Linked DNA regions of Homo sapiens: region 2 is linked to region 1. The links come from fine-mapping of genetic effects on gene expression. A gene starts in region 1. The other region holds a variant in brackets. All regions are shown on one strand. Distances are between the middles of the regions. Region 1 holds the start of POSTN (periostin). Region 2 has its middle 13 kb from the start of LINC01048.

What was found. PIP is the estimated chance that this variant, and not a neighbour inherited with it, causes the effect.
Region 2: its variant is the best candidate, but not a certain one, in a credible set for the expression of POSTN in aorta (GTEx, PIP 0.55).

Annotation. Positions count from the first base shown.
Region 1 is chr13:37,597,075-37,600,007 of GRCh38, forward strand. POSTN (periostin) reads right to left here and starts at 1,694. Exons shown (of 23, transcript NM_006475.3): 1 at 1,534-1,694; 2 at 110-208. The coding sequence starts at 1,652.
Region 2 is chr13:37,496,548-37,499,480 of GRCh38, forward strand. No RefSeq gene overlaps it. Among named protein-coding and RNA genes, the nearest start is that of LINC01048, 13 kb to the left of the region's middle. The variant C/A (reference allele first, on the strand shown) is at 1,172.

The DNA.
Region 1 (2,933 bases):
ATTTTGGTCAGTATTTTCAAGAAGAATGGTGTGTACACCCAGGGGAAGGCATATACATCATGATGTTGTTTTTGGAACTGACATATTATGAAAAAAAAAAGAGACTTACGTTTTCTGTCCACAGATGGACTTTTTATACCAGTTCTTACAAGTGCTGAAGTATTTCTTTTTGGTGCCCAAAATCTGTTGAAGGGCACAGACATTTGGGCTGGAGGATAGAGGGAAAGGAAAAAAGTTAATGTCCTAATAATGACTAGTTTTTCGTATCTAAAGATTGGTTGATAGAAGAAAATGTTGAGATGTGGATTTGATATCCAAAGACATGATTCTAGCCTTGCACAAATCTAATTATTGACACAATCCTACTGAATTGTTGAAAAACCGAAAGTCTACAGGAGGTGGCAGGGAGAGAGAGAAAAATTATACATTTCTGAGAGTAAAATACAAGCTTTTCAAAAAGTTAACCAACTAGGACTATTCAAACAGTATGAACGTAATTTTATTTCTATGTGCCTTATTACTTTTAATGGTAGATAATCTACTGACCCTTTTTAAACCAAGCATGTGCTCATTTGGAGGATGGCCATAACTTCAGGGCTCTCTGGAACAATGAGAGGTCAGAGAGCAAAAGAGACAAGGTTTATTATGTACACAGACACTATACTCTGTAATTTTCTAGGTAAGTAATCACAGAAGTAAATGTGCTAAAATTAACTTTGAAACAATATGGTTGCACAAAGGAGAATTTATCTTTTTGAATGGAAGTAACAGATCAGAACATCCTCTGTCACAATTTTAAGGTTCCCCTTCCCCTCTTAAAGGGACAGAAGTCTTTTTTCACTGTAAGTCAAAGAAGCTTGTGAACATTATGAAAATTCCTGTGAGGCATAGGAAGAAGTGCCAAGATCCGCTTAAAAAATTATAAATGGTTGGATAAGTTACAAAATTATGTGTAATTTTAAAAATGCTTAGTTGTAGTTGCATTAGTTCTATAAAATATAAATTACCTTTGCAAATTTTACAGAATTCAGAGTTTAAAAGTAACTTAAATGCTTCAAAGAATTCAGAGAACTAGTTACATTACCCAGTATTTAACCTTCATATGTAATTTAAATAAAATTTTCTCTAACATCATGTGAGATATTTCAATGCTGTTTGCATACATATGATAGTTCCTAACAATAGATTTTTTAATTTTGAAAACTCAATTTCAGATTTTTGGAAGAAAATAAAAACATAAATAAATGGAATTATAAAAGAATGCCCAGCTAAATTGTGTTAATTAGATTAGAATTATATAACATTTCATAAGAAAGCAATTATATTCAAGGTATTTAGAGAGCAATTAAGTCTTAAAGCTTAAAAGTGCATAGATAAATCACAGAATACTCACATTTTCCTTTTTTTCCTATTACTTTATAATAATTAGGAAAAAAAACCCTGAGGCATATATGAGAAACTTTATGCATACTTGAACATCTAACAAGCTGAGGAAAAAGAAAAATGGTTTATAAAACCAAACCACTCACTTACCCTTGGTCCCGACCCCTGATACGACTATGAGCCAAGATCTTGTCATAATGATTGTTGGCGTTTATAGGGTTAACAATAAGCAGCAATAGTAGAGAAAACATGGGTAAAAAGGGAATCATCTTGAGTCTCTCCGTTGCAGTTAGTCCCCGAAGAGAACTGGCAGTGGGCTTTGGAGAGCTCAGAATTTATATACATGTCAGAGTTGTGGGAGGGAACACTGCATCAACCTGAGAGTCTGAACTCTTTCCAGGAAGCATCGGCAACTTCAAATTGCCAGCTAAGATTTGTTTTGGTTAGTTATATTTAAGGAACACATTGAGCTACTTTTCCTTTTCATTATAAAGAAGGTACTTATTTTTAATCATATGAACAATTGACTCACTGCATGTTTAAGTCTCAGTTTTATTCCTTTGTATCTTAGAGGGTTTTTAAGAAAAATTCTTTTGTTGAGTTTTAAGAGATATTCTGCAATCCTTTCCAGAGTAGAATGTATAATGTCTGTGTGCTCAAGATTATTGTTAGGTGTTATTGCAGTTCACATCAGAACTGAAAGATTATTATTATTATTATTTTTACCAGAAAACAAAGGTAGATGCGAGTCTGACAATCACAAGGGGGTAAAGGCTGTTGATTAAAAACAAACTCTGGATAGATTTAAAACTTGTGTAAGATATGAAATAAGAATTCTAACTTGCTGAAGAACCATGTAGGAGAGTCCATATTTTCCTTGCTATCGTACAAAAAGGAGAGCTACCTCTCATTTCCTTTCTTTTTCAAATATCAAGGAACATATAGAGTTAACATAAATCTACTCTGACAAATTTCTCTAAGGTTTGAAATGAAGCAGAAAGGAAAAACATTTGTGCTTTATTGTTTTTCATGACACACTTTATGTGATGTTGAACATGTCTATGCAGCACATCTACTGATAACCACTGGTGAAAAGCAGCCAATATTGGAAGCAAGTGTTACGAATCTAGAGATAACTAGAACAATTAAATACATATTAGGAAACATGGACATTGCCAAAATGATTCTTCTGATTTTATCAAGAATAACTAAAGCCTTTCAATGTTACACTATGCAATCCCTAGCCAAAGGAATGTGCGTTCTTACTACTCCATGCATATGTCAAATGTTCAGAAAACTTTGGATAAAAGAAATCTGAATATCAGAGGGAAACAATGAGCTGAAATGGTAACCACAATCAGCTTCCTTGAATAAACAAGCTGCACACCATCCTAAAGTGTAATTCCAATCCATTTTGCTACAAGATGCTCCCTCTGTAATGTCATATCCATGTTCTTTTCCCACTGGTGAGGTAGAGAGATTTTGTCAGAATTCTCCTTGTTGTTCTATTGGGAAGGCTTTAGGGGAACTGGACTGAACTAGAGAGGATT
Region 2 (2,933 bases), 100 kb before region 1:
CCTACCCACCCTCACAGACCCCACTGAAGTCTGGAAGCCTCATGGGGTACCGAGAAAATGGATTGGAACCGCACACTCTAAAATGAATGTCTTGCCTCCCATATCATAAGAGGTCTACCAAGCATTGTACCATTTTCTTCAGGATGCGTGACTCAAGGTGTGGCAACTTATCTTTCATGTTGGAGTAGATAGTCCAACCTCCTTTCAGACTGCTAGACTCCCAGAAACCTCAGATGTAGCAGCCCTCGAACTTTCACAGAGTTTATCTCCCTCTCTAGCCTGTGTGATTGTACTCAATAAAGTACCTAAGATTCCTGTTATTTCTTGCACACTAGGATCAATTAGTAAAATGTCTTTGATGTAATGGTCATTTAATGCTCTGTGCGGTATTGTGATGACCAAAGTTCTTCTAGACTATATTGTAATAGAAAGCAGGAGCATCCATATAACCCTAAGGAAAGGCATTAGAGGTTTATTGCCTTTGCCACAGTACAGCATTTTTATTCTGATTATTTCATATGGGCATTCTGTTAGTTACTAAGTGTGATTATTCCAATAAACACAAAGTGGACAATCAGATGTTGGACCCTGGGACTGGGGAAATAACCACACTGGAGCTGCTATGAGATGGATTCAGGATAAGGCTGTAATCTTCTTAAGTCCATTTGTAACTAGAGAGACCACAGTGGTATTCCAGGTCTCTGCATCAGTTCGAGGGTGGGGATGTTATGAAGATAGAATTTTTACCATGTGATTCAAATTATACAATTGTTATATTTCTAGACATCAAATTAGATAGTTACCTTTTTCTATAAAATTCATCATTTCATCTAAGACTTCAAATGTATTGGTAAACTATTGTTCATAGCTATTGCTTGTGGTTTTATCTACGTATCTTTGAGCATGCCGTTTTCATTATCTTTATTATTAATTATTACTTTGGTCTTTAAGTTTTGACAAGTCATTTAAGAAATTTATCCATTTTTAATTGGTATTAAAAATAGACTTCTATTTATTTTTATTTTGTTTTATATTTTATTAACCTCTGCTATTATTGTAATTATCTTCTTATAGGTTATTCAGTATTAAAAATCTTACAGTGGAGTTCAAGACCAGCCTGGCCAACACGGTGAAACCCCGTCTCTACTAAAAAAAAATAAAAAAATACAAA[C/A]ATTGGCTGGGCACAGTGGTGCACACCTGTAATCCCAGCTACTTGGAGGCTGAGGCAGGAGAATCACTTGAACTCAGGAGGTGGAGGTTGCGGTGAGCCAAGATTGCACCACTGCACTCCAGCTTGGGGGCAACAGAGTAAGACTATGTCCGGGAAAAAAAAAGAAAACAACCATAGAGTGGAAGATCAGCTCTTATTTTTCTGCCTTTTTTTCTTTAGTAACGTAATATTTTTTTTCAGGTTTATTGAGGTATAATTGGCAAATAAAAATTGTATATATTTAAAGTGTACATGATGTTTTGAAATATGTATATATGGTGAAATAATTACTACAATCACACTAGTTAACATATCCATCACTTCACATAGTTGCTGTGCATGTGTGTGACGAGAATATTTACAAGCTACTCTTCTAGAAAATTTCAAGAATGAAATACATTATTAATAATTATAGTCACCCTGTTGTGCATAAGATCTCCAGAATTTATTAGTACATAAGAGTTTAAGATTATAATTTGCACTTTAATTATATCTCTATTTACATGCCAAGTATTGATAATTAGTATTATTCTTTTTCTTTTTTAACGGAGTCTCACTCTGTCGCCTGCCCAGGCTGGAGTGCAGTGGCACAATCTCGGCTCACTGCAAGCTCCGCCTCCCGGGTTCACGCCATTCTCCTGCCTCAGCCTCCCGAGTAGCTGGGACTACAGGTGCCCGCCACCATGCCAGGCTAATTTTTTGTATCTTTTTTAGTAGAGACGGGGTTTCACCATGTTTGCCAGGATGGTCTCGATCTCCTGACCTCATGATCCGCCCACCTCGGCCTCCCAAAGTGCTGGGATTACAGGCATGAGCCACTGCGCCCGGCCCCAGTATTATTCTTATTATTGACATATTTTCTAATTTTCACTATGGTTTCTTTTTTAATGCATATGTTATTTAGAAGTACAATTGCTTTAAATTTCCAAATTTATGGTTTTATTTTTATATTCAAGCATAATTGGTTTACTTGCTTTTATTTAAACTTTGAATTTTGAGATAATTGTTGATTCTCATGCAGTTGTAAGAAAAATACAGACAGATCTCAGTTTCCCTCAATGTTAGCATATATACAGAGTACAACTTCACAACCATCATACTGACATAGATTTATCAAGTTACAGAATAATTTTCTCACCACAAGGGTTCCTCATGTTGTCCTCTTATAACCACATCCACTTTTCTCCTTTCCCTCTATCACTGTCTACCCCATCTTTAAACCTTGACAACTACTAATTTGTTCTTCACTTCTATAATATTGCCAATGATAACCATGGCAAATTGTAACCATTTGTGATTTTCTATTTCACCCAGCATATTCCCTGGAGATCCATTCAAAGTGTTGCACGTATCAACAGTTTCTTTTTATTGCTGTGTAGTGTTCTATGGCACGGATGTCCTAAAATTGTTTAAACATTCTCTGTTGAAGGATTAGATTATTTATAGTTTTTCACTATTGTCAGCAAAGTTGCAATGAACATTTATGAACAGGTTTTTGTGTGAATATAAATTTTCATTTCTTTGGGATAAATAATCAGAATGGCAATTTTCTGAACATATGATAGTTGCATACTAAGTTTTTAAAGCAACCACCAAATGAGTTTCCAGAGCAGCTTTACAATTCTATATCCTACCAGCAATGTATGATAAATCCAGTTTTCTGCCATCTTGCCAGAGTTTGGTGTTTCACTGTTTTTTGTTTGTTTGTTTTTAATTTTAGTCA